7 separate regions of the Homo sapiens genome follow, and regions 1, 2, 3, 4, 5 and 6 are each reported to be linked to region 7. The links are microRNA targets in miRTarBase. Many come from high-throughput screens and were not tested one by one. Region 7 holds a microRNA gene; each other region holds the end of a gene's coding sequence.
What was found. The annotated mature microRNA hsa-miR-4279 reads CUCUCCUCCCGGCUUC and lies in region 7 at 2,241-2,256, shown strand. An mRNA with a match to its seed (bases 2 to 7 or 8) in the 3' UTR can be bound and repressed. Matches are read on the target gene's strand: a 7mer-m8 pairs with bases 2 to 8, a 7mer-A1 pairs with bases 2 to 7 and ends in A, and an 8mer does both.

Region 1: the mRNA of CENPI is a reported target of hsa-miR-4279. Seed matches in the 3' UTR shown: 7mer-A1 at 2,473-2,479 and 8mer at 712-719.
Region 2: the mRNA of IL17RD is a reported target of hsa-miR-4279. Seed matches in the 3' UTR shown: 8mer at 1,899-1,906.
Region 3: miRTarBase lists GMEB1 as a target of hsa-miR-4279. Seed matches in the 3' UTR shown: 7mer-A1 at 1,286-1,292 and 7mer-A1 at 1,783-1,789.
Region 4: the mRNA of GJD3 is a reported target of hsa-miR-4279. Seed matches in the 3' UTR shown: 7mer-m8 at 2,630-2,636 and 7mer-A1 at 2,396-2,402.
Region 5: the mRNA of NLRP10 is a reported target of hsa-miR-4279. Seed matches in the 3' UTR shown: 7mer-A1 at 1,200-1,206 and 7mer-A1 at 1,613-1,619.
Region 6: miRTarBase lists TXK as a target of hsa-miR-4279. Seed matches in the 3' UTR shown: 7mer-m8 at 2,649-2,655.

The regions. Positions count from the first base shown.
Region 1 is chrX:101,162,420-101,166,419 of GRCh38, reverse strand. It overlaps CENPI (centromere protein I), which reads right to left. Exons shown (of 22, transcript NM_001386188.2): 22 at 294-3,587. The coding sequence ends at 3,453. Among named protein-coding and RNA genes, the nearest start is that of DRP2, 55 kb to the left of the region's middle.
Region 2 is chr3:57,092,587-57,096,665 of GRCh38, forward strand. It overlaps IL17RD (interleukin 17 receptor D), which reads right to left. Exons shown (of 13, transcript NM_017563.5): 13 at 1-3,919. The coding sequence ends at 3,807. Among named protein-coding and RNA genes, the nearest start is that of SPATA12, 34 kb to the left of the region's middle.
Region 3 is chr1:28,714,223-28,718,301 of GRCh38, forward strand. GMEB1 (glucocorticoid modulatory element binding protein 1) reads left to right here. Exons shown (of 10, transcript NM_001319674.2): 10 at 1-4,079. The coding sequence ends at 551. Among named protein-coding and RNA genes, the nearest start is that of YTHDF2, 21 kb to the right of the region's middle.
Region 4 is chr17:40,359,363-40,363,436 of GRCh38, forward strand. It overlaps GJD3 (gap junction protein delta 3), which reads right to left. Exons shown (of 1, transcript NM_152219.4): 1 at 1,290-4,074. The coding sequence ends at 3,569. GJD3-AS1 (GJD3 antisense RNA 1) reads left to right here and starts at 3,483. Exons shown (of 1, transcript NR_186704.1): 1 at 3,483-4,074. RefSeq lists an enhancer at 3,295-3,589 and silencers at 3,417-3,486, 3,607-3,686, 3,717-3,826.
Region 5 is chr11:7,956,195-7,960,273 of GRCh38, reverse strand. NLRP10 (NLR family pyrin domain containing 10) reads left to right here. Exons shown (of 3, transcript NM_001391958.1): 3 at 1-2,737. The coding sequence ends at 630. Among named protein-coding and RNA genes, the nearest start is that of NLRP10, 7.2 kb to the left of the region's middle.
Region 6 is chr4:48,064,161-48,068,239 of GRCh38, forward strand. It overlaps TXK (TXK tyrosine kinase), which reads right to left. Exons shown (of 15, transcript NM_003328.3): 15 at 2,233-3,545. The coding sequence ends at 3,477. Among named protein-coding and RNA genes, the nearest start is that of NIPAL1, 49 kb to the left of the region's middle. RefSeq lists an enhancer at 261-310.
Region 7 is chr5:31,934,289-31,938,367 of GRCh38, reverse strand. MIR4279 (microRNA 4279) reads left to right here and starts at 2,209; the gene lies at 2,209-2,266. All of the region lies in intron 2 of PDZD2 (PDZ domain containing 2), which reads right to left.

The DNA of each region.
Region 1 (4,000 bases), not on the chromosome of region 7:
CACTTCGGGAGGCCGAGACGGGTGGATCCCGAGGTCAAGAGATCAAGACCATCCTGGCCAACATGATGAAACCCCATCTCTACCAAAAATACAAAAATTAGCTGGGCATGGTGGCATGTGCCTGTAGTCCCAGCTACTCGGGAGGCTGAGGCAGGAGAATCGCTTGAATCCGGGAGGCAGAGGTTGCAGTGAGCTGAGATCAGGCCGCTGCACTCCACCCTGGTGACAGAGTGAGACTCCGTCTCAAGAAGAAAAAAAAAAAGTTAAAAGAGAAATAGGCACAAAAAAAGGTATCCAGGTATGTCTAAGTATTTTATTTGTGGGGCAAAAAAAGATACCCAGGGAATCATTATTGAACAAAAAGACAAACCTAAGGGAAAAATTATTTTTCATAAATTTAAGTTTAGAAAAGTTTCTTTAATGATAAAATAATCAACTCCCTTCTCACAATGGAAAGTTCTACATGATCTTAAGGACCAAAATATCATGATCTGAAAAGCAATATGGAAAGTTATTTGCAGTACAAACTATCACATTTACTTAAAAAGCAGCTGAAGTTGCTTTTTTCCAGGTATATAGGTAACATTTCACACCATTCAATACTACCTTCCTTTTGTGAAACATTTTCTTCTGATGGCTTCCAGAATACCAGCCTCCTGATTTTTCTTCTAGGTCACTGGTGGGTCCTTCTCAGTCTTTTGCTGGTTCCTCTTCTCCTCTACTTCTCAATGCTGGCATACCTTAGGTCTCTGTCTTTTGCTACCTTCTCTTCTCTAGCTGTACTAGGTGATCTCATCCAAAGTCATGGTTATTCCCTAATGACTCCCAAATTAATTTTCTAGTCCCAAATTGTACTCTGAAGTCCAGACTTGGATATCCAATTGCCTACACAGCATTTCCAACCTAACATAGCCAAAACAGAATTTAATCTCAGAGTTCACCCAATTGACAGGTCAAAAATCTGAGTCATCCTTTACTCCTCTCCTTTTCCTCCTCATATCCAAGCTATCAGCAGACATTATCTTCTCTACTTACAAAACAGAGTCTGAATCCAACCTCTAACCCCTCCCACCTCAACATTTATCACACTTGTCCAAAACTGTTACCTAGGACACTATAATAACCTAACCAGTCTCTGCTTTCCTCTTTAATCTTCTTCAGTCTAACCTTGACATTGTAGCTCCATATTTCATAAAGGTAAATCAAATTATGTCACTCCTCTTCTCAATCTAATTGCTTCCCATTTACATATCCATGCCAGGCTATAAGGACCTGGCTTTCTTCCTTATGTCACTTCTTACCATTCTTCTCTCTTAATCACTATGCTGTAACCTTACTGGCCTCTTTGTTATTCCTCAAACATGCCAAGTAAGTTAACATTTTAGGGCCTTTTCACTTGTTTTTTACCTTTGTCCAGAATGCTCTTTCCCCAAATATTTATATGACTCATATGCTTACTTCACTGGGGCCTCTGCATATGTCATCTCTTCAAACAGGCTTTCCCAAACCATCTTATCTAAAGTTTCAACCCTCTCCACATTCTGTCCCAGTGGGATTCATCCCGGGATGCAAAGATGATTCAGTATACACAAATCAGTAAATGTGATATATCATGTTAACAGAATGAAGGACAAAAGCCATATGATAATCTCAAAAGATACAAAAAAAGCATTTGACAAAATTCAACACATTGTATCCCTATTCCCTGCCCTTTCTTTATAGCATTTGATATATGTTATTGTCTGTCTTCTCCATTGGAATGTAAACTCCATAAAAACAGGTACTTTGGGCTGGGTGCAATGGCTCACACCTCTAATCCCAACACTTTGGGAGGCCAAGGCGGGTTGATCACTTGAGATCAAGAGTTCAAGTCCAGCCTGGTCAACATGACGGAACCCTGTCTCTACTAAAAATACAAAAATTGGCTGGGCGTGGTGGTAGGTGCCTGTAATCCCAGCTATTCGTGAGGCTGAGGCAGGAGAATTGCTTGAACCAGAAAGTAGAGGTTGCAGTGAGCCAAGATCATGCCTCTGCACTCCAGCCTGGGCAACAGAGTGAGACTCCATCTCAAAAAACAAAAACAAAAACAAAAACCCGGGTACTTTGTATTGGTCACAACTGTATAACCAGCACACAGAAGAGTACCTGGCACAGAGAAAGGAGCTCAATAAATATTTATTGAATCAATTAATGAGTCAATGGACGAGTGGGATTTCTAGTCTGAACGCCATCCAATAATATAGTTTAGGGTTTGTTTTTTAAATGGGGAAAAAAAAGAACCCCAAGTATGCATCCTTAAAGACAAAAATTAATTCAGCTTGATTCTTCTCAAATGATACGAATTTTACTAGAAGGGAGAATTATTCAATAGCATTGAGGTAATTTTTTTTTTTTTTTTTGAGACAGAGTCTCGCTGGAGTGCAGTGGCGCGATCTTGGCTCACTGCAACCTCCGCCTCCCGGGTTCAAGCGATTCTCCTGCCCCAGCCTCCTGAGTAGCTGGGACTACAGGCACGTGCCGGCATGCCCGGCCAATTTTTTGTATTTTTAGTAGAGACAGGGTTTTACCATATTGGCCAGCCTCATCTCGAACTCCTGACCTCATGATCCACCCACCTTGGCCTCCCAAAGTGCTGGGATTACAGGCGTGAGCCACCACGCCCAGCAGGCAAAATTTTATAGTACATTTTCAGCAAGATATTCTAGCTATTATTAACTTTTTTAAAACTTCAGAATTCCTTCTGAAAGTAAAATTTCAGTTAGTTTATTTAGTCCTTACACTTAAAAACTGAAGCTACAGACACACACATACACGCACACATACACATATACATATACAATACACACAAACAAAATAGAGCAGTTCCATGAAATCAGACATATACGGGAATGTCTTGATTACCCAACAAATCCTCTCCCCTTCCTTCCCTCATCAAATTGCTATGATTGAAGGCCCAGGAAGTTACCAACTACTTAGGGCTTTTAGAGTCATACACATGTTGCATCCTGTTAACTTGGTGTTGGTGCTGTTGCTCACAGTAAGAAAAATGGCAATATCCCCAGAGACAGCAAAGTATTTTGCATGTTTATGTCTGTGAGTTAACTGTCACCACATATTGCCTGCTGTCTTCCATCAATGCAGCTCATAGTACCCAAAAATGTGAAAAAATCCTACCACAAAACAGATGTGTCTTTTTACATACAATTTGGTAGAACGCAGAGCCTGATGATGAAGGGGTCATTTTTCACTGGTAGGCTAAAAAAATCTAAATTTTGAAAAATCAGTTAGGCACACCAAGGCTCTCCTAAGCCATGAACAGAAGGCCAGTCTGAGTACTCCTTGAGGATGGCAGTCTGTCAGTGAAATGAAAATGGGAACTCAAGATGAGCCACTTTGCTCTAGCAATGAGGAGTGAGTTTAGTCCAGTGTGTTCAGTTTATGTCAACATTCATTTAATATTGATTGTTGCAGTTTATGCCCTCTGCTCTGGGAATGGAAGAATGATGAACACTACTTCTTATAAAAAGTTTCAAGCCTTGTAACCCCTGTGAAAATAAATAGTCCAAATACCAGCTCCATTTCTTTCCCTGCAGGCACAGAAAAAGGAAAATTACTTATCGAATATTTTACTATGCTTTTTCTCTATTTCCTCCTCTTTCCCTAGGAAGAGTTTGCAGCATCCCGCATGCACATATCAAAATTAGTTCGGGGGGGAAATGAGCTCAGTCACTAAGTAACATTTAAACCAGAAAGTACCCAATTCCAAGGGCTAAACGTCCATTTTATTATGTTGGCAAAAAAATTTAAGTACTGTGCAATGGAAATGTGTCATCATTCTCACACTCTAGGAGATAACATAGGAGCAGATATTATTATATTACTGCCTATATTAAATGTGTAAATAGCAGTTTTTGATAATGAGATAATTATATATATATATATATATTTTTTTTTTTTTTTTTTTGAGATACGGTTTTGCTCTGTTTGTTGCCCAAGCTGG
Region 2 (4,079 bases), not on the chromosome of region 7:
TCAAAAAAAAAAAAATGAAATTGTTCCCAGCATTTTTTAAATTGAGAGAGCATAAATCTGATTCTGAAATTAACAACTGGCTTGCCTTTCTTTTAAGACACTGTGAAATGTAAAGACGCAATCAAGACATGTCCAGTGCATTCAGAATCACGTCAAATTTCTTTGCGGGGGAGACTGGAGAAAGAAGCAATCTAACTACTGGCTGCATTTAGCAAGAGCATTTTCTGGTGGCACCGTCTGTAATTACCATGAATGCCTTTCCTTCAAATCTTATAAAGCACAGGTTAACAAACTGGTAGTCAGTGGACCAAATCAGGTCCATCCATGTCTTCTGCTGGGTCTAAATTCACTTGAATTTTAACTTAGTTGCCAATATTTTTTAAAATCAGAATTTTTCATATAAAAATCCAGATTGTCAGCTTTTCTTGAAAAATGGGAAGATCAGGAAGTACTTCATGGCCACAGTCGACTGGAAAATTACCCACTGTGGGTGGAACAGGGGCGCTTCAGTTTGCCACAGTCCCCACCATTCCCTATTGCTGACACAGACAAAGTATATTAATTACCATTTATCATCACACTGCTGTTTTCCTTATACCTCACCTGCTATACTGGTGACCACTGAAGGTATAAGATCTGCTAAATAAGAGCAGTAGTAGTCTTCACCAATAGAAAATAAAAAAGACTAGTAACCTTCACATTGGCATTGCCCATTTCTCTTCAATAAAGACAGAAATAATATTTTCTCTCTTCTTCAGGGAGCCAAATTAGTGTTGAAGTTGGGGGGCCAGAGAGTTTTCTTTCTTTTGGGAGAAGGGTGTGTCATTTTTCCTCAAGGAATAAAATTGGTCCTCTTGCCCCTTATTTCTTTTAAAAGAAAAGATGCTCAACTCTGAAAAAAAGGCTCTGAAAATCATGTAACCCCACATTTTTTGAAGGACAGTCTTCCTGCTTATTTGCACTCAAGATACTATTATTTGCTCAAGATACTATTATCTGGCTGGGTCACCATCTGAATACCTGGGCCTGGACTGGAATGACTTCTGACTCTTTCTGGAGATCAATTGCCTCAAAGGCCCAAGACAGCCCTCTGGAGGAGCTTTGGCACCTTGTATGGCTGGGCTGAGTCTGTTGAGGTGGTCTCTGTTGAGGTGGTCTCTGTTGCTTGTAGCCAATCTCTGAGAAGGCACACCTTTACCTGAGCTTTAACCTCCTTGATCACTCTCCTGGCAAAGCTGATGACATCAGATGCTAAGTCCTTTCTGTAGCTCATTGGTAAGTTAAGATGAACAACTAGCACTCTACCTTCAGCTACCCGCAGGCTTCTTGGTTTTCCTGGAAACCTGGACTTATCCCTGGTCTCTTTTCTAGAGGACGTTGTCTAACCTATCTACACAAGCCTTTTACTCTCAGGATCAAGGCCTCTCATGGAGATCATCCTGTTTTCCATTTCTTGTTTCCATAATATCTAAAAGCCTGTGACTTGGCAGAACGTTTTTCTGAATTTCATCTTATATCCACCGTCTGGGACAATTTCTGAGTCAAAAAATGCAGCTTTGCTTAAAACAGATGTTTTGCCGTAATCTGCAGGGCAACGATTCCCATTTCTAGCATACTGGGGAGAGTAGAAAAAGTGAAACTAATTAAACAAAACTAGGAAGTTGGACTTCTCAATTTATTCTGAGGCAATCACACTATGGTTTCATTACTCGGTATATTAAGAGTTTGATTTTATTGATCAGAAACATTAGTATTTCAACATAAGTATCAAAACCCTAAATCCAAACTAAAACATCCCGATTTTTTAACTAGCACTCTCTTTTTCTCTTCCATTTTCTTAAGGAGTGAGTTCACATAGCAAGCTCTCTGCCCACACACCCTTGGAGCTCAGTTAATGCTTCTCCTCCCAGTCCTCCATTCTCTCCCTGGGGCCACTTTCTCAGAGATGCCTTATTTCATGAACAAAGCTGAATACCCTAAAAGCGACTCCTAATGGTTCCTCTGGGACAGGAAACATCTCTTGGCCTCAATAAGAAATCTCTCATCATGTTCCAAGTGAATTTTCGTATGTTAGCAAGTTTGGACTAACCAATCTCCTTCACAGAATGCCTAGGATGAAATGGCGGGGCAGTCATGTGTGGGTAGGAGCTCTGCACTCATTCCAGATTCCATAGGAACAACATAAAATGACTCTTCTCTGAGTTGCCTGTTGTTATGGGGAGGCAGTCTTGCAGCTCACTGTCTCTCCCTCAGAGCAGCTGCAAGAAACTTGATGCCAGAGAACAGACGAGCACGTTCTTTTCCCAAAAAGCTGCCAGCTGCCTTTACAGAGCAGTGAGTATGACATTTGCATCAGAAATATACACAAACCTTTTCTTTCCAGCAGGGGTGCAAGCCCCCCTTTCCCCACCTGCCATGCATGTGCTTGGAAGGGAAAGTCCTGCCCCATCCCACCTCCCACCTTGCCTCAGGATGTTTCTCAACATACCCCTTCATGTTGGTCTTATCTGACGAAGAAGTGAAAACCACATTCCCTGGGCTGAATGCTGAGAAAACGGGTGCCAAAATCTAACAGCACCCATGAGAAAGGTAGTGAGAGATGTACACACCTGCTCTAAGGCACAGGGAGAAGGGTTTCCACAGGGGAGACCAAGACAGCATTCATTACACACATGCTAATCATCAGATGGGATGTGAACAATTGTTTTTTCTTTAGAAATAGAAACTCTGTAGAAAGTCATTCATAAAAATGGAACATTTACTTTTGTGACTATCACCTCCATTCTACCATCTTAAAAAGAGGTTTGTCATTAGTCAAAACCAGTTCAGCAGATTAACTGGCCATCACCTCCACACACTGCTGTATTTCAGTGAATTGTGATCCCTAATATTCAGGACACAGCTTTAGACCAGAAGGCCAACCAAAGCACGAACTGCAACTTCCAATAATACAGACCAGCTGGGTAGCAGTCTCTTAAGAATAAACTTCCAGACACCAACATCTGAGATACAGCACAGTAAATGTAACCCATGGAAACAGCAGGCAGATCTGGCCCCCACATGATGCCTACTCAGACCAAGAGGAGGCTGTGTGTGCTGAGGTCCTGGGGCCTTCTGCACGATGACCAACCTATCTCAAGTGGAACGGTCAAGACGGTCAGCCTGGCCCCGTGAGCTTCACCTCAATCAGTCATGCCACCCAGTAACACAGAGACTCATTTCATAAAAGGTGACTGTATATTCAGTCACTTTCTTGACTTTTGACTCAAAGCTTATTTAACACCCATGGCAATGTAAATTCTACATCAAAAATAAATGAGAACATTATCTGCAATACAACATGGATTCCAGATAGACTGGCACTTGATTTCTGTGGCTATGATGTTAAAAGTGCCTTTTTTCACAAAGCATTTCAAATCAAGGTAGCCAATAGCAAACAGGCAAAGTTTGCAGAGCTCAATGAAGTCTGAATGATTAGTGCAGGTATCTTCCTGTTTTTCTTTACATATTTCCTCCCTACCTCCCACAACAGGCTCTGATCCAAGGACTAACCAAATTTGGCAAGCTGTTGTCAGACCTTATGGACATGCCTTTCAGAGCTCCATATCATTTTAGAAAATTGGAGAGTTTGTCAAGATATCCGGTAAAGGGTTGGGGCAAGGGAGAACAAGTACTGGCCAGCATTTCACTCCAAATATCCTTGTATGAGACCTCAGCTCCAAGTGGGCCATGCAACCAGGGAGATGAGCTGGGGAATCAGAGGGAGGCAGCAGCTAAAGTGGCAATGCTTAGACTCTTTCGTTTTGTTACAAAGGGGCGACCGCGTGGAGTTCATCAGTGTAGCTGCGGCAACCAAGATCTGCTTTGCATGACCCAGAAGAGAGGAGCTTGGAAGGAAGGGCAGGAGGTTCCTCCTCACCTAAGGAGAGAAGAGAGTACAGAGTCACACTGTCATTGCATTTCACTGGGCTGGGCAGGTGCTCATGGCAGAATGTGACTGGATCTGGGTTTGGACTATGGGCTCTGTATAAACGAGGCAAGAATCCCAACCAACTCAAGATGGGGCACTCTCATCCTCC
Region 3 (4,079 bases), not on the chromosome of region 7:
TGAGCCCTTCTCCTCCTGTCCAGCAGCCTCAGTTCACAGTCATCTCACCCATCACCATCACCCCAGTGGGTCAGTCATTTTCCATGGGCAATATTCCAGTGGCCACCCTCAGCCAGGGCTCCAGTCCTGTGACTGTCCACACACTGCCTTCTGGCCCTCAGCTCTTCCGCTATGCCACAGTGGTCTCCTCTGCCAAGAGCAGCTCACCAGACACAGTGACCATCCACCCTTCATCTAGCTTGGCGCTGCTGAGCTCTACTGCCATGCAGGATGGGAGTACACTGGGCAACATGACCACCATGGTTAGCCCTGTGGAATTGGTGGCCATGGAGTCCGGCCTAACCTCGGCAATTCAGGCTGTTGAAAGCACCTCAGAGGATGGGCAGACCATCATTGAGATTGATCCAGCCCCGGACCCAGAAGCTGAAGATACTGAGGGCAAAGCAGTCATCTTGGAGACAGAGCTGAGGACTGAGGAGAAAGTTGTGGCTGAGATGGAAGAACACCAGCATCAAGTTCACAATGTGGAGATTGTGGTCTTAGAGGATTAACTGGGGATCTCAGGGCCAGGAGTTATGTTTTGATTTGGAATTTTAATTATTTGTTTATTTTTATCATTGTCCCACTCATTTCCACATAGGACCCTTTTTTAAAAAAAAAAAAACAAAATCTTATTGTTGTAACTGAAAATGTTGGGTTCTTCCCACTCCCTCATTGAAAAATGGACAAAACAAGCTGCCCTTCCAGAAGTTGAGAGTAGGTCATTCAATGTCCTAATCATCTTACACCAAGAAAGTAATTTCTTTTAGGGGAAGTGTCAAGATAACAAGTAACCCTGTCCAGAAAGCCATTTCCAGGCTCGTCTGTGTGTGTAGGCATGTGGTTTTATTCTTGTAAAGATGCATTGACCAAACTCTGGAACACAGATCTGACACTGGAAGGCAACCCACTCGCATGTGGATGCTGAAGGGCACTTTATTTTGTATCCTGAAAAGGGCCTACAGAGGCCAGTACAAAACTCTCAAACAAAAGGAAGTTGACTCTGCTTTGAGGGGAAGGTGGCATGCCAGCACTAGCTTAAAAAGGGAAGTGCTAGCCGGGCGTGGTGGCTCACGCCTGCAATCCCAGCACTTTGGGAGGCCGAGGCGGGTGGATCACGAGGTCAGGAGTTTGAGACCAGCCTGGCCAACATGGTGAAACCCCGTATCTACTAAAAATACGAAAAAAAAATTAGCCGGGTGTGGTGGCGGGAGCCTGTAATCCCAGCTATTCAGGAGGCCAAGGCAGGAGAATCGCTTGAACCTGGGAAGGCAGAGGTTGCAGTGAGCCAAGATCGCACCACTGCACTCCAGCCTGGGCAACAAGAGCGAGACTCCATCTCAAAAAAAAAAAAAAAAAAAAGTGCTTTGGCAAGTATGGGGCAGGGAAATCATCTTACTTCCAGAGGTGCAACTGACGCCTCTGGAGATCTCCAAAAGTTAGTACCGTGAGTGCCATTTTGAGAAGAAGGTGGTAATAAGTGGAAGGTACATCTCCACAGAGCAAGTGGCAGCAGTGGCCTGTGGTTTTGCAGAAATGGAAAGCCAAGGCCGGGTGCGGTGGCTCATGCCTGTAATCCCAGCACTTTGGGAGGCCGAGGTGGGTGAATCACCTGAGGTCAGGAGTTTGAGGCCAGCCTGGCCAACATGGTGAAACCCCGTCTCTACTGAAAATACAAAAAAAAAAAATTAGCTGGGCATGGTGGCACGCGCCTGTAATCCCAGCTACTTGGGAGGCTGAGGCAGGAGAATTGCTTGAACCTGGGAGGCGGAGGTTGCAGTGAGCTGAGATCATGCCATTGCACTCTAGCCTGGGCGAGGAGTGAAACTCCGTCTCAAAAAAAAAGAAAGAAATGGAAAGCCAAGGATGCTGCAGCTGTGCTTTGGGGTTCAAGGTAATAGCTTACCTTGTTCCACACTTTGTCAAAGCACTCACCCTCCTAAGCTAGGACCAGTCCATTCATTTGAAACTGTGCAATGTGATGTAAATGGCTCTGGTTCTTAGACTGTGGCTGTCACAGGGATGGGGCTCCAAGGCCATCATTTTCATTGCATGGCTCCAAGAGCAGGGAGTTCCTCAATGAAACCAGCTGCCTTTTTTGGTGGGGCCATTTTTTTGGCTTTGGAACCCAAAGCAGCCACTCATTTGGTGCTTCCTCTTGTTCTGCCCTCCATCCCTCAACTCTTAATGGCATCTGTCTCCTAGAACCCACGCTCTTCAGCTTTTTGGCTGATTTGGAGAACAGTGACAGGTGCCTGCCTGCCTTCGTCCCCTTTTAGATTCATTTATACCACAGATGTTTCTGTGAGATACTGAGATCATAAAAAGCTTTAGGCTTGGCAGAGAGGACTCAACACCCCCAGGCTTTCCTGAGGCACCAACTAGATGTCTCTTGAGTGAGCTGGACTCCCTGGGAAAGAAGCATTGTCTGCAACATTATATTATAGGAAATGTACCAGGAATGTCAATAATAATGCTTTGGGGGGGGGGGTTATTTTGTTTTGTTTTGTTTTTAATGTTGTTTGTATATTTAGAGCTGGGCCATTTTCCGTGCTGCGATTTCTTCTCTTTGACCCTCTTCAGTGTTTGGGGCAAGAGTGGACCCTGGTTTTTATTTCTTTGATTGCATTGTTTACTGCACTAGGAAAAATATAGAGATACAGGGAAACTACAGACAAATTTAAGGAAAAATAGGTCAAAAAAGAAAGCACACACCTTAAGAGTGGGAGGAATATTTTTATTAAAAACAAAACTTGGACCTGTAGTTTTTTTTTTTCTTTTTTATTTTTAAGAAGGCACCTTTCAGAAGCCATGTTTCTTCCAACAGATGTTGGAAACCCCATCGAGCAAGTAAAAGTTGCATTCTCCATCCCTCAGATGGCTGTATGTAGTCAAAGAAACCCTGTAACATGGTAAGGTTGCTGTTTTTTTTTTTTTTTTCTTTTTGAGATGGAGTCTTGCTCTGTAGCCCAGGCTGGAGTGCAATGGTGTGATCTCAGCTCACTGCAACCTCCGCCTCCTTGGTTCAAGTGATTCTCCTGCCTCAGCCTCCTGAGTAGCTGGGATTACAGGCTCCCACCACCACGCCCGGGTAATTTTTGTATTTTTAGTAGAGACGGGGTTTTGCCATGTTGGCCAGGCTGGTCTTGAACTCCTGACCTCAAGCGATCCGCCCGCCTTGGCCTCCCAAAGTGTTGGGATTACAGGCATGAGCCACCGCACCCAGCCTGAAGGTGACTCTTAAGAATGAGATTTATGAACTCCATACAGTTGTAGATTTCAGTTTTTAAATAGTCTGGGGTTTTATTTTTCTTTTCAAAATATCTAATAGACTTAGCAATCAATTTAGAACAAATATTTGGCCCTTAATATATCTTTAGTGAGGGAAGTAGCTTTTATTTCCTGCTTGTTTAGGTTTTCTGTTGGTACATAAAAACAAAATTGCTGTCTCAGACTGAATCTACTTGAATCTAGGAAGGCACATCTCATCCCTATTGTGGTTTTTAGGGACACTTTTCTCTTTCCCAGAGATGAGAGGACCAATTCAGGACAGAAGAGCCCTCGTGAATACCAACGTGCTAGCTCAGGTTCCCTTCTTTCCTCCATCAGAGCTATTGGTAGGGTTTTAAGGTCGTGTGTGCATCATGCTTCCAATGTCAAGAGATTTCCTCAAACAGCCTGTTTACTAGATGAATTTTCCAGCTGGTGAAATACATGAGCTTTGTTGTTTTCCTGGTCTTCCAATAGCCTGTCATTATTGTTAGATATTATGGCACCTGTTGTTGAATGTAGGTTCCCTTACAGCCCTGGTCTAGATGATCCTAGATGGGGTGAGACATATGCAAGCCATTGGTATGTGCATAAGCAGTTGCAATGAACCTTAGGCTGACTTGGTAGTAGGCATTTGTCTTTCTGTTCATGCATTGAATAAACATTTTTAAGAACCATCTATGTGCCAGGCTTTGTGCTAGGCACTGACAGTAGAGAGATGAAGACATAGTCCTTGCACTTAAGGAATTCATACTCCAGATGTCTGGAGT
Region 4 (4,074 bases), not on the chromosome of region 7:
CACCGTGCCTGGCCTCAAAACCCTTAATGTTTTACATGTAAAACAGGGTTTGGGCCCAGGGTTTTCACTTATGCCAATGTCCAGTTGGACATTCTAAAGTTGTGCCTGAGGCTGGGCGCAGTGGCGCAAGCCTGTAATCTCAGAACTTTGGGAGGCAGAGGCTGACGGATCACTTGAGTCCAGGAGTTCAAGACCAGCCTGGGCAACATGGTGAAACCCTGCCTCTACAAAAAAAAATACAAAAATTAGCCTAGCCTTGTAGTGTGCATCTGTGGTGTCAGCTACTTGGGGGGGGGGCTCAGGTGGGAGAGTTGCTGGATCCCTGGAGGTTGAGGCTGCAGTGAGCCGTGATAACACCACTGCACTCTAGTCTGGGCAACAGATGGAGACCCTGTCTCAAAGAATAAAAATAAAAACAAAAAAGTTGTGCCAAGCAGGTTTTTATTTCAAGAGGATATCTTGACGTCCATAGCCCTTGCCCACTAAATGCCAATGGGGTCCCCCATCATTGTGAAAACAAAGCAGTGGCCCCCACATTTACAAAATGCCCCTTGGGGTAGTGCCTTTGCTGTTTGGAACCTCTAGTCTTGGGGTTGTCCTCAGTGGTCCACAGTTCACTGCTGTCGAGCAGAGTTGCTCAGCTTCAGCACCAATGTGAAGATCTGAGCCAGGTTGTGGGGGCTGTCCTGTGCATTGCAGGATGCTAAGCAACATCTCCAACCTTCCGCCCATGAAACCCTAGTGGTGCTTCTCTCCCACCCCAGCTGTAACAACCAAATATGTCTCCAGACACTGCTAAACGCCCCCCTGGGGGGCAAAATCACCCCCATGTGAGATCCACTGCTGTGGAGTGTGGTCCTCCAGGGCTGATGTGCTTTGCACTGAGCCAGGGCCCATCCTCCGCAGAGAGACTGAGCCAGAGGAAGGTGACCGGGATGCCACCTGGGCAGAGCTGCAACAGGCTTGACAGGCCTACGGGAGTGCAGGGCAGAGGCACTGAATCACGCTTGGGGCAGGGCTCAGAAGCCTTCCTGGAAGAGGTGGCCTCTCTCAGCTAAATCTCTTTTTAATTTAGTTTTATTTATTTTGAGACGGAGTCTCCCGCTGTAGCCGAGGCTCATTGCTAAATCTCTAGAGGAAAGAATTGGCTAGGTGGGTGCAGATTTGGAAGACTTAGTATGAAAAAAAGAATGTAAACTATCTCCTTAATACTTTTTAATATCAATGAGGCATTAAGATGAAAATACTTTGGGTGTGCTAGGTTAAATAAAATACGTGACTAAAATTAATTTCATTTGTTTCCTTTTACTTTTTTAATGTGGCTAATGAAAAACTTGAAACTACATACATGGCTCATATGCTATTTCCATCGGATGATGCTGATCTTGAACATCTTCTGACACACAGTAGGTACCCTACAAATATTTGTTGAATGAATACATCTGGAAAACAGCGGCACAGCCCCATCTGGGTTTGTGTGGAGGGGTCTGGGTTGTGGACACAGAACTGTCATCAGAGAGATGGTGCCCACCATAGCATGGATAGTGTTCGGGCATGGCAGTGGTGTAGGCCTGGGGACACCTTCAGTTTCTCATCCAACACATATTTACTGAGCACATACTACGTGCCATGGAAGGGGAGAGAGCAATGCCATCCTGCAGGAGAAGTGCTTTCCCTACGGAAGCGAGGGGCATCCAGCTCTGTCTTGGGGTGGGGGCTACCAGGGGAGCCCTCTCCTTGAAGGTGTCTGTTTTCTTCCCAAGTGACAACAATAGGTGGGTGGGCATTAGCTAGGGGAGGAGAAGGCTGCAGGAAGCAGCGGCTACTCTGGGCAAAGGAACAGCACGTTCAAACGCTTGGCAGCAAGCAGGTCTGGTGCTTGTTAGAAGAGAAAATTCCCTATGGTTCTGAGCACACCTGGAAGCCGGTGCTGTGGAGTCGAAGGCCTGACAGGGGCAGGGCTTCAGAAGGAAGCTTTGTGAAGGCGCTTGACTCACCCTGAGGGCAGGGGTGCTGCCCTCAGTCCCGGGTTTAAGTGGGGGGCGCTATTCAGAAACACCTCCCACTGCTGTGTGGGGCACAGGAGAGCTGAGAAAGACGCCAGGAACTCAGAAGGACAGGGTGGGGTGATGGCGGGGAACGCACAGCCTGGTAGGCAGGATGCGGTGAGGCCCGCAAGGTGCAGTCCGATGACGGCCCCTGGATTTCTCGCTTAGGTCCTGGGTGATCTTATGGAGAGCAGCCCACTGGCTGGTGAAGGGGGAGGGCAGACGGGAGGGGAGACACAGGAGGGGGATGCGCTGCATAGGCAGCAGCTCTTCGAATGCCCGCAAGTAGGAAGAAGGGGGTGGTTGGAAGGGAAGGCAGGGCCGGGAGCGCGTGTGTTTTGGGAGCTTTCTCCTGAGGACAGAAGGGACTTTCCCGTTTATAGCCTGGGGGAGCAGTAGCGGCGGGGAGGATGAAGATGGAGGAGGGAGGCATAACACACGTCTGGGTTGCCCTCTGGCCCGCCGCCCACCCCCACCCCACCTCCATGAAAGCGCCCAGCCCCCGCCTCGCCACAAGGGGTACTGTGAGGATGTTGCTCATAGGCTCCCGAGGATTGAGGCCTGCCCGGGGAAAGGGAGCCTCTCCTCCTCTTCCCTCCCTGGGCGGGGTCTCTTGGGAGGGGGGGACAGACCTCCTGTGATGCCCTGGCAGGTGGGCTGGGTTAGGGTGGTAGGGAGGGAGCCATTGTGGCTGCAGCTGGCATCGGATCCTGGCCACCCCCGCAGTGCATATCAGAGATCACACACACACGCGTGCACACACAGAGGTCACGCCGGATGTACACATGCACACATAGCGCACAAGGATGTTTCTGTGTACAGGTGTGCACACGCAGCCCACACAGAATGGACATGTGCGTGTGTGCACAATGCACTCACACAAAGCTCACAGGGATGTGAGTACACAGCTCTCAAGGGGCATATGTTTCTGTGTGCATGTGCACACAGCTCACCCGGGAGGGTTACGTGTGTCTGTGTGCACAAGTGGGCCTCACGCAGGGTGTACACATGCGCGCACATGCACAGCGCTCACACAGGGTGTACAGGTGCGCGTGCACACAGCTCACAGTGCTTATGTGTCCGTGTATGCACACTCGCAGAGAGCCCACAGGGGGACCACTCTCTCTCTGAACACAGAGAGTGCCTGAGAATGCTGGCATCACAGTTGTTTTTGTCCCCAGTAAAACAACCACTCTCCACCTTCCGCTCTGTTCTCCCCCTCGGGTCCACTCTCTCTCAGGGTCCTGGTCTCCTTCCTTTCCACCTGGGTGGTGGCATCCAGGACCTGCCTGAGTTCATTCTCCGCCCCCAGCCCGGCCTGCCCCAGGTGCCGCCGGCAGCCACTGGGAGGCAGTACGAGGCAAGTGCGATGCCGCCCGCGGGCCGTCCCCACAACGCGTCTCCTGCCGGGGCAGGTCCCGCGACAGCTCTGGTGGAAGCAGCTTCCGGCTTCTGCGGTGCGGGCGGAGGTGGCGGGGTCCGGCCCTCGCCGTCCAGTCCGCGCGAGGCGGTGCCCGCCCCTAGATGGCCAGATCTCGGCGGCCGGTGGCCGGTGACGCCTTGCCGCGGCCGCTGCCGCACTCGCGGAGGCTGGCCGGCGCCGGGTGCGCATAGGCCGGCGGGGCGCACGGCTCGGGGCCGGGGCGCCGGGAGGGCAGGGCCGGTGGCGGAGGTGGCGGCGGCGGCGGCGGGAGCAGCTTCTGCGCCTCTTCGTGTGCACGGTTGCAGCGGTTGTCACGCTCCCCGGCGCGCGGGCGGCCCTTCCAGAGCAGGTGGCCCAGCTCGGCTACGCTGAGCAGCGCCGACAGCAGCCCCACCGCGAAATAGAAGAGCACGAAGACGGTCTTCTCGGTGGGCCGGCTCACGAAGCAGTCGACCGTGTGCGGGCAGGGCGGACCGGCGCACGCGAAGTGCGGGGCCACGCGGAAGCCGTAGAGCAGCGCCTGGCCGCCCAGGAAGGTCAGCTCGGCCAGCAGGCGCAGCGCCACGCTCAGCAGGTAGCAGCGGCGCGCGCGGCGGGCGCGCA
Region 5 (4,079 bases), not on the chromosome of region 7:
CTGAGTAGTAACGACTACCAATTGGGACTTGCCATCAAGAAGTTCTACAGCTTCCGCCACATCAGCTTCCAGGACTTTTTTCATGCCATGTCTTACCTGGTGAAAGAGGACCAAAGCCGGCTGGGGAAGGAGTCCCGCAGAGAAGTGCAAAGGCTGCTGGAGGTAAAGGAGCAGGAAGGGAATGATGAGATGACCCTCACTATGCAGTTTTTACTGGACATCTCGAAAAAAGACAGCTTCTCGAACTTGGAGCTCAAGTTCTGCTTCAGAATTTCTCCCTGTTTAGCGCAGGATCTGAAGCATTTTAAAGAACAGATGGAATCTATGAAGCACAACAGGACCTGGGATTTGGAATTCTCCCTGTATGAAGCTAAAATAAAGAATCTGGTAAAAGGTATTCAGATGAACAATGTATCATTCAAGATAAAACATTCAAATGAAAAGAAATCACAGAGCCAGAATTTATTTTCTGTCAAAAGCAGCTTGAGTCATGGACCTAAGGAGGAGCAAAAATGTCCTTCTGTCCATGGACAGAAGGAGGGCAAAGATAATATAGCAGGAACACAAAAGGAAGCTTCTACTGGAAAAGGCAGAGGGACAGAGGAAACACCAAAAAATACTTACATATAAACCTAATTAAATATGTACAAGATCTCTATGAGGAAAATGACAACACTCTGAGGAAAGAAATCAAAGAAGCTGTAAATGAATGGGAAGATTTTCCATGTTCATGAATAGAAAGACTCAATATTGTTAAGATGTTAGTTTTCCCCAGTTTGATCTGTAGATTCAATGCAATCCCAATCAAGATCCCAGCAAATAACTTTGTGGACATTGATAAGATGATTCTAATGTTTATGTGCAAAGGCAAAAGACTCAGAATAGCCAATAAAATATTGAAGAAGAACAAAGTTGGAGGAGTGCTGCTATCCAACTTCTTCCTACTATAAAGCTACAGTAATCAAGACAGTATGGTATTGTTAAAATAATAGAGAAATCAGTGGAGTAGAATAGAGAACCAGAAACAAACCTACACAAAAATGGTCAATTGATCTTAGACAAAGGAGCAAAAGCAATTTAATGGAGAAAGTTTACTCTTTTCAACAAATGGTGCTGAAATAACTGGACATCCACATGTAAAAAAATGAATCTAGATGTAAAATACAAAAGTACTAATATAAACTGCTAGAAGATAATATAGGAGAAAATCTAGGTGACCTTGGGTTTGGCGATGACTTTTTAGATATAACAGCAAAAGCATGAATCATTAAAAAAAGAATTAGTTGGCTTCATGAAAATTAAAAACTTATGCTCTGTGAAAGACACTGTTAAGAGAATGAAAAGATAAGCCAAAGACTGGGAGAAAATATTTGCAAACACATATCTGATAAAAGACTTGGGTAAAAAAAAATACAAATAGCTCTTAAAACTCAATAATAAGTAAAGAGTCTACTTAAAAAGTGAGTAGGAGGCCCAGGCTGGTGGATCACGAGGTCAAGAGACCGAGACCATCCTGGCCAATGTGGTGAAACCCCGTCTTTACTAAAAATACGAAAGTTAGCCGGGCGTGGTGGTGCACACCTGTAGTCCCAGCTACTCAGGAGGCTGAGGCAGGAGAATTGCTTGAATCTGGGAGGCGGAGGTTGCAGTGAGCTGAGATCGCACCACTGCACTCCAGCCTGGCAACAGAGTGAGACTCTGCCTCAAAAAAAAAAAGGTGAGTAAAAAGATTGGAACAGACAGCTTATTAAAGAAGATACACAGATGGCAAATAAATATTTGAAAAGACGCTCAACTTCATATGTCATTAGGGAATTGCAAACTAAAACCACAATAAGATACCATGACACCCCTGTTAGAATGGCTAACATCCCAAATCCTGGCAACACTAAATGCTTGTTAGGATGTGGAGTAGTGGGAGCCTTATTCATTGCTGGTCAGAATGCAAAATGGTACAGCCACTTTGAAAGACAGTTTGGCAGTTTCTTACAAAGCTAAACATAGTTTTACTATATGTAAGATCTAGCAATTATGCTCCTAGATATTAACCCAAGTGAGTTGGAAACTTATGTCCACATAAAAACCTGCACATGAATATTTATAGCAGCTTTATTCGTAATTGCCCAAATTTGGAAGCAACCAAGATGTCCTTCAATAGGTGATGGATAAGCAAACTGTGATACATCCACATAATGTAATAGTATTCAGTGATAAAAATAAATGAGCAATTAAGACATGAAAAGATATGGAGAAGCCTTAAATGCAACTACTAAGTGAAAGAAGTCAGTCTGAAAAGGCTACATACTGTGTAATTCCAAATATATGCTCTTATGAAAAATGAAAAACTATGGAGACAATTAAAAATCAGTGGTTGTCAGGGGTTCAAGGAGAGTCAGGGAGAGATAACCAGGTGGAGGCACAGGCACTTTAGGATAGTAAAACTATTCTGTGTGATATTATAATGATGGAGTCATGACATAAATTTTTCAAAACGCATAGAGCTGTACAATACAAAGAGTGAATCCTAATGTAAACTGTGCCTTGTAGTTAATAATAGTGTATCAAAATTGGTTCATCAATGATCACAAATGTGTCACACTAATGCAAGATGTTAATAAGAGAAACTTTGTGAGGGGGTGGTGGTGGTGGAGAGGGTATATAGGAACTTTCTGTATTTAAAAAAAGTTTTATTGAAGTATAATTAGTTTAATACAATAAACTGTGCATATTTAATATATAAAATTTGATGAATTTGTACATACACATACATCTGTGAAACCATCACTACAATCAAGGTAGAAGACATAACAATCCCCCCAAAAATGTTCCCGTGTCCTTTTATCTTTTTGTGTGTGTTAAAAACACAACACAAAATTTACCCTCTTATAAATTTTTAAGCACATAATACAGTATTGTTGACTATATGTGGGAATTCTGTACTTTCCACTCAATTTTTCTTTAAACCTAAAATTGCTCTTGAAAAACTAAGAAAATCTGAATTAAGTATGGACTTTAGTTAATAAAAATATGGTTAACTTTACTGATATATAGGATATTAAAAATATTCTGGGTTTTAGGTCATTTATCAGTTAATATGTGTTACACATATCTCTTCTTATTTTTTTGGCTTGTTTTTTCAGTCTCTTGATGCCTTTTGATAAATGAGTTCTTAATTTACTCATTTTTTCTTTTATGATTAATAACTTTATTTTCTGTTTAAGACATTTTCTATCCTGAGAATATAAAATAATCTCCTATATAAACTTCCAGAAAGTTTATTGCTTTACTTAACATATTTAGTCTGGTAAACCACTAGGAATTAATTTTGATGTATGATGTGAGATAGATAAAGTTTTATTTTTTCCCAGTAGTGATAATCAGGTGGTCTAATACTATTTATTCAAGAGATCAACCTTTCTCCACAATTCTGCAGTATCACCTTCATCATAAATCAAGTGTACATAAGTCTCTTCTGATCTCTCTATTCTTTTCCATTGATCTATTTGTAGATTCTCATGGCAAATACCATGCAGTTTTTATTATGGTAGCTTTGTAATAAGTCTTGCCACCTGGTAGTGGAAGAACAACAACTTTTCTTCTGGATTTTTGTGGCTATTTTATGTCCTTTGCATCTACACTTAAATATTAGAAGCAGTTTGTCAATTTATAAGAAAAACATTAGGATTTTTGGGTTTTGATTGAAATTGCATGCAATCTATAGATCAAATTTGGGAGGACTGACAATTTTATAATATTGATCCTTCTAATCCATGTACATTGGTTGTATATAGCTCTACTTTTTATATACATTTGATGTCTCACAGCAATATTTTGTAGTTCATATCTTTCGATGGTATTTAATACAATTCTAAGTGCGATACTTAAATTTTTATTTTCTAATTGTTTTTACAATTAGCTTTTTATCAAATTTTTTTAGTACATTGATCTTCTATATTGTCATTTCCCCAAATTTACTTATTTTTTAATAGCTTAAGAGCAGACTTTTTGGACCTTATATTGACACATTATGTTGTCTGCAAATAATGACAGTTTAATTTCTTCATTTCTAATCACTGTAC
Region 6 (4,079 bases), not on the chromosome of region 7:
GCCACCACACCTGGCCAGAATGTATCATTTCTTGATCTGAGTCTGGTTACAGAGATGTATTCACTTTGCCAATATCAATGATGTTACATACTCATGATTTGTGTACTTTTCTTTATGTATGTGTGAGCAAAGAGTTAATAGCAGGTCTGTACCATTTTTCTCCCAGAACTATGCCTGCTTGGGAAATTTTAGGTTTGTCTTATCCCAGCACGAGTTTCTTGTAAATGACCCAAATTAAGATAAATTTGGAATATTGGGTACCAGGGACAGACATCCATTTTGTGCACTGTGAAACCTACAATCTATGGGACAGTACATGGGGCTGGGAGACCTGTGAACCGTAGGCCTATATGACTGGTGGGAAACCCACATAGAAGCTTCTTTGCATCAAGGCAAACCCCCACATACCACAACCTCATCCAAATACCACAAGCTCATGCACGCTCTTTAGGCAGGTGAGGAGGGACCCAAGCATCATGCATGCTTAATTTCCTGTCCTGTATCCTACTATAAAGCTAAGCAAATTTAGTGCTAGGCTAAATGCTATTGTATCTCATCAGTTTGCTTGCCAGTCCAAACATGTTCCCAATACCATGGTGGTACCATGTATTGCACTTCAATAAAAAGTTTACTAAATTCCTTTATCTATTCTTGCCAAAAGGTTATTTTCACTGATTATATATTCCGCTTGGCCTCCAAATTCCTTCCATTTTTCTGAGCCTCCTCGCTGTCTGTTGACCTCCTATATTCTCCTTTTTAGGACTCTACAATTGACCCCTAAACCTCCTATTCATTTTTTTATGCAGAGCTGTTTAAATATTGCACTATCTCACCTCAAATGACCCAGAGAACCCTCATATCAATAACTAATATTAAGATTGGTTGCAAAACATAGTTCCTTTCCAGGAGAACTTGTATAACTATCTCTTTTTTTTTTGACAGAGTCTCACTCTGTCACCCAGGATAGAGGGCAGTAGCACAGTCTCAGCTCACCGCAACTTCCACCTCCTGGGTTCAAGCAATTCTCCTGCCTCAGCCTCCCGAGTAGCTGGGATTACAGGCACGTGCCACCACGCCTGGCTAACTTTTCGTATTTTTAGTAGAGACAGGGTTTCACCATGTTGGCCAGGCTGATCTCTAACTCCTGACCTCAGATGATCCACCCGCCTCGGCCTCCCAAAGTGCTGGATTACAGGCATGAGCCATTGTGCCTGGCTGACTACCTCTTAAGGAAACTTTTTTGTTTAGTTAGACAAAGAATGGTAAATCTCTTTCCACGCACATTCAAAATTCACACATTATCTGGACTCTTAGTTACCTAGGACATACCCCCAGTTATTCTTGTACCTAATTTGGTACCTCAAATTTTCCCGAGGTGTTAAAACAAAAGGAATAGAGCTTGCCTAGCACCTTAGAAGTGCTGCACCCTCTTAGAAGTGCCAGGCACTGTCATAGTTGTTGCCCTCTTAGAATGATTTGCCTCTGGGTGTCACTCTTTGCTCTGTACCTGGTACAACTATAGTGATGGCAGATGCTCCATACTCAGTCCTAGCTTTTCAGTGTTTGGCTTTGCTGGGTTTTTTCTTTCTTTCTTTTTGAGAGAAATGGGGACTTCCAAGCTGAGTAAAACCTGGAAAGGGCAACTTACTGCAGCCATATATTGATACTACATTATTTCCTATGTCATAATATTAACCTCCCTTCCATCTGCTTTTGCTGTTTAGTAGTCTCATGTCTTCTTGAGCTAGACTATCTTATGTAAATTCATGTTATGTGAATTGAGGTCTCAGTAATAACAGCCTTCTGTCTTTCCTCACCGTAACAGGAGTCATAGGAAAGGGGGTGTGATAGTCTCAGAAACAGCCTAGCATCTCATACAAACTTGTTTCTGTTTTTGAGACAGGGTCTCGCTCTATCACCCAGGCTGGAGTGCAGTGGCACAATCATGGCTCACTGCAGCCTTGATCTCCTGGGCTCCTGTCTCAGCCTCCCAAGTAGCTGGGACTACGTGCATGCATGCACCACTACACCTAGCTTTTTTTTTCTTTTTTCTTTTTTCTTGTAATAGAGATAGGATCTCACTTTGTTGCCCAGGCTGGTCTCAAACTGGGCTCAAGTTATCTTCCCACCTTGGCCTCCCAAAGTGCTGGGATTATAGGCATGAGCCACCACATTCAGCCCAAACATTTCTGAGACCACTACTTGAACTATCAAGTCTCCTCTTGTAACTGATTCTCATTAGAAATAATACACATTTATTGAATGTCATTGATATATAAAGATACCATTCTTTGAGTGGGGGAAATATAATTTAAAAGTCGCAACTACTGACAATCAACAAATAAACTCTAATGAGAATCATAAAGCTTGTTCCCAGAGAACCATGATACAGGGTGGGACAGTACGCAAATAATGGGCTCCTGTTGTCAGACTTCATGGTGATTACATTAGTGCTTTCTCCAGTATCTTTCTTCCTATTGTACTCCTGAAGCACTCAGAATGATAAAGATAAATTTCTGATCATTCCTACAAAGAGTGCAGGCAAAGTTAAGATTTAACTGTGATTGCTGGTTGTTTCATCTCGAATTCAAAATCCTGGATTTCCGAAACAATGGAGCTTGATGTCACATTTGGCTATCTTGCTTTTGTCTCCTCTTCTGGAAAGAACAAATCATCTTCCTGAAAATTACAGGAGACACTTAGTATGACAAAATAAGGCCTCTGAAACTGTCCAATCTCACATGTAAAAAGTGTAAAATCACAGAACTAAAATCAGGTTCCGGATTTTCCTGGAAATAGAATGTCACCGGGATCTGTTCAAAGGTGAGCTTTGGCTACATTTTATAACAGTGTTTAAAACTCGAATGCAAAAAACTGCTTTCAATATAATCAGATATGTGCAAAAACAATTTGTTAAATAACATGGGAAGATTATATTAACAAAAGACATTTCCAGAATACTAACATTCATGTGATTTATAAAGGTGCATTTTCTGTAAAGAGCTATACAGCCCAAAAACATGAAATTCTTCAAGGGAGTCCCCTTTATCCCATGAGTTGGAAGAATTTATTTTCATATTCTATGCATGGATCACTGAAGTGATGAATGTCACTCGTCTTCAAGAAGGAAGCACTCTCAGCCTTGTGAAGAAGAACCTCAAGGGTTCCTGGGGCTATGATCATGAAGAGCACCACAATGAAGACTGCTGCGAAGTCTTTTTCACTTCTTCACATTTGGGATGTGAAATATTTTACAGAAAAATAAGAGTGTGCAAATCCCTCTCACACATAGAAAAACGATTGTGTGAATATTCTTAAATTTTTAAAACTTTTAAAAACTGTGATCTTTGCACTGTTTTCAAGAGTCAGCAACTCTGAAGAAAGATATTCACCATAAGTGACCCCATATGGTGAAGATATTCACAATAAATGACAGTTTTGCAAGATGACTCTTTGGGTTGGCATTCTGTTTCCGGTCACCAGGTTTCCGCAATCTCTGTGACAGCCCGCAGCAGCTCGGCAAATGTAGGGCGGCCTTCAGGTTTCTGGAAAAGGGAAGTGGGGGTGGTTAGCTCAGCTTAACCAACTTATGCCAAGGGTTCCATTTTTGGAACGCTAAGCATGTGGGAGTCACTTATATCCCACTGCTCGAGGTCATCGCCAAGGTCTGATTTTTCACTCATGCAAAAATTCAAAAAATTGCCACCTGCGGCATAAATAGGCTAAGGATCACTCAGAGACCAGCTCTGGAACTTGCTGGCAGAGACCTGAATCCAGGCTGGCTCTTCACAAAAAGGAAGAGAAAGATATCTTGACTGACTGACATAGCACAGCATGATTGGCAGTTGAGTGAGGCGTGAATATGAAAATGTTAGAGAATGTTGCAAAAATAAAACGGCTAGACCTGCAAACACTAGCCACATGTGGCTATTTAAATTTAAATTCCTTAAGATTATATAAATGTTTAAATTCAGTTACTCAGTCGTGCTAGCCACTTTTCAAGAACCCAATAGCCAGAAGTGGCTGCCATATTGGGCAGCACAGATATAGAACGTTTCAGCATCTCAGAAAGTACTCTA
Region 7 (4,079 bases):
CCATTTGGAGGCGATGGCACCAATACAGACTAAGAAACTAAAATCAGTTTCCCAAACAAGAGCCCATTCAAATTGCTGAGGGCTTAACTTGCTGCATCAACCCACTGATCACATTATTCACCAATGATATTAAAAAATCAACAGGTCAAGGTGGAGTGCTGGGAGCAGTGGCTCACACCTGTAATCCTAGCACTTTGGGAGGCCGAGGTGGGCAGATCACTTGAGGTCAAAAGTTTGACACCAATCTGGCCAACAGAGTGAAACTCTGTCTCTAAATGGGGGCGGAAATCAACAGACCAACCAGCAAACCAGCAAATGTTTTTTTCTAAAGATCGGATAGGCTTTGTGGGTCACTATCTCTGTCCTATATTCTTCTTTGTTTCTTCAACTCTTCAAAACATAAAACACATTCTTAGCTCCCAGGCCATACAAAAACAGGCTAGGGCAGTCTGGATTTGCCTAAGGGCCATAGCTTGCTGAACACCGCTTCCAGCAGGAACCCTGGGAAGGAACCTGTCCCCAACACAGCTTCTAAGTCACTGCAGATAGCACCTGGGACAGATCAGTCTGAAGGATGGGAGACAAAGGGGACACACACAACAGGTGAACAGTAGGCAAGAAAGGACAAGAGTTGGGGTGGCGACGGTAGGAACATGGGGTGAAAAAGTTTTCTAAAAGACCACAGGAGGTGCCGTTCCTCCTCCCATAGAAGGCTAGCTGTGTAATGCTGAGAAATCACACGGAAAGAGAGACTAGCAATGATGTGTGGGCTTGCTTGACTAAACACAGCCATCCCCCAGCCCTCCAGGACTAAAATGCAAAGCCACAAAACGTGGCCACCACGGCATGAGGATGACCACAGCATGAGGATGCCAGCCAGGCAGTAAGCAGTAACCCAAGCAGCTCCCAATTTTGCCTTTTCAGACACACCCCTGTGGCTACGGGGCATTCTCCAAACCTCAACGCAAACAGTTCCAGGATTCAGGCTGGGCTATTCTACCGAAACAAAATTCTCCACCTACCTCTGACGTTCTTCTCAGGCTGACCACACGCACCATTTCTATCCAACCTCCTCCATGTTAGCCCAATCCCCCAACACCCTGGCCACTTCATTAGTGAGGGAAAACATGTCAGATCATCCCAGTGCCCAGGAGAAGCAAGGCCTAGAAATGATTCAGAACCTGGGGCTGGAGATGATCTTTATTCTGTTCTACTTCTCTTATCACAAGCCCCAAACCTTGACAACGGAAGGAACACCCTGAGACTCGGCTACAATCATGGGAATCAAAAATCAGTTTTAAAATTATCCTTGCATGTGGCTGCCACCCATGGTCCTCCCCATTTATTTTCTACTTCTGAGTGTGAAACGTCACTGTGACAGTTTCCAACCCTCTGCACTCCCCCCACTCCATGACAAATATTCAGGATTCACACTTCACTTTCACACTGCTTTCCAATCCCTTGACTTAGAAGCCGAGCAGAGGCAGCCTGCCTTAATGGAGAAAACATTAGTGCATTCGGGCTTCACTCTGGATCCCAGTCAATTTCTGGATATTTCACAGCTGTTATACATCCACCTCCTTTCTTACAAAAGCCAGCAAAAATTAGTGAGCACCTCGTTGGCTCTGAAATATGAAAATGGAGCCACAGTCAAGCCTGAAAATCGGTTTCTGGTTGACTCCCTTCAAAGTATTTGTTCTAAAACACAGTGTCTGCAGTTCATTTATCATCTGCCAATTTTTAAATGAGTTTAAATTAAAAAAGCTTCAATGCTGCATGCTTTTTTTCTTTTTTTTTTTTTAAAGCAACTCTCAGAATAAAACTGTCATTTGGTCATCACACTAGTAACTGAGAGAACTCTTGCTTGGGCAGATATCAGCACAATTCAAGCTGAGTCTTTTATGTTATTATTACCTGCTCATCTCTCATATAATTAAAAAATAATAAACCCTTGGAAGACCTGTAAGTTGTGTTCAGAGAGAAAATGTGATTCTCTTCACCACTCAGGTCTCCCGTCCTACCTGCTTTATGAGCTGGTCAGGTGAGCGTGCTCTGCTGTGCTTCAGCAGCCTCTGGAATGGGACAGACTCCAAAGTTGGTTGTGCTTCACTTCCCTTCTCCATTCAGGTCTTTAAAGTCCTGGGTTATTAACTATCAACAAAAATACAAGCTGCGCCATGCGTGCTCCAACTTCCTGCCAGCTCCCCATGCTCTGTGGAGCTGAGGAGCAGATTCTCTCTCTCTCCTCCCGGCTTCACCTCCTGAGCTCCAGAGCCCCACCCACCCACAGCACTCAGATCATTTTTCATTTATGAATGCATCCAGCCACGCTGTGTTTGTAAGAGAAGGAGCCAATCCTTGCCCTGCCAGTGTATTGGAACCAGGCTGCTATAAACGGTTCTAATTTTCCAGGAGTATGGGGGGAAATCATATCCCAGCAGACATCATGCATGGCTTCCTCCTGCAGGTATCTGCAGATCAGCTCTTCCATCACCAAAGGACGCACACTTGGCCACGGACCACAGCTGCTTCATTCTACAGACTGCCAGGGAGGAGGACTGAAGATTTCAGGCAGGAGAAAACCAAAATACTATCAAAATGTGTACTTCACATAACTAAAAATGTGAAGCTAGGATGATCAGTGAAGAAACTTTCCACTCAGTGACCTGATATTTCACAATACATTTAATCTGTCTTGCACTTATTAAAGGGCCAGATTTTTTTTTAAATTGCATCCAAATGCAAACAAAAATCAAGGGGTTAAATTATTTTATAAAGAAGTCTGTTGGGAAATAAAAGCCATTTGTCTTGATGACACCAAATTTACAACTTTTCTACTCCGACTAAGCTTCCAACTTCCATTGTAGACAAGTACTAGCAAAACCAGAAATTATCAGTCAGCCCTTGAGTTGCTGAAAAAATCCTCAACTTTTAAACACAATATGATTTTTCTAAGGTTTTATCAGGAAATAGAATGTTAAAAAATAGGCTTCCCTAAACCAACACACATATATAGTAGTTTCTATTATGGGTAAAATTTGCCTTGTTTTACAGCTGAAGCCAAAGGGGTCTTTCATGATCCAACAGCCAGAGACAAAGATTCCAAAAACCTTTGGTGCAGGTATAAAAATGTACATGTGCAACTTAAATGGGAATGACATTTTATTATTCCAATACTCACAAGGTCCTTTGTTAGCTATACTTGTAAGGAACAAAATAGGAGCAAACATCCTCTGTTTACTTCTTGCAGCCATTCTATTTTCTTTCTTTTTTTTTTTTTGAGACAGGGTCTGGCTCTGTTGCCCAGGTGGGAGTGCAGTGGAGTAATCTCGGCCCACTGCAACCTCCATCTTCCGGGTTCAAGAGATTCTCCTGCCTCAACCTCCTGGAGTAGCTGGGATTACAGGCGCCCGCCACCATGCCCAGATATTTTTTGTATTTTTAGTAGAGATGGGGTTTCACCATGTTGGTCAAGCTGGTCTCAAACTCCTGGTCTCAAGTGATCTGCCCATCTCGGCCTCCCAAAGTTCTGGGATTACAGGTGTGAGCCACCACTGCTGGCCAGATTTTTGGTGTTTTTTAGTATATTCATTTATTTTAGAGTTTTATCCAGTATAAATTTTTCCCCTAGGAGCCTTGTATTGACATAACCTAGTTCCAGTCACAGTGAGACATTTTTGAAATTGCTTCTAAATTTTCCATGTATTAAAAAACTGGTGGTCTAGTATCCGGACTTAAGTCTTTTTTTTTTTTTTTTTTTAATTAGATGGTTCAAATGTCTCCTAAACAGAAAATGCTATACATTTTCTCATGTGCTCCAAATGGATTCTAGCCATCCCAATACCCTAACACATTCTTGAAAACAAAAACAGGATCCGCCTTTTACTGATGAGATAAAGAAGACAGAAAGTCACTAGTATATATGATGTTTCCCTGGTGCGGCAGAGAAAGAACTAATGGGAGGATTAGTTCCTAGTCTCCAAACACCAGCAGGGAGCCCCAGGCAAGTCCACATTTTTTGTGTGCATTCAAGAGGCCTGAAAGTTGATCGTGTGGGTAACTTCCTGGAACTCACCTTC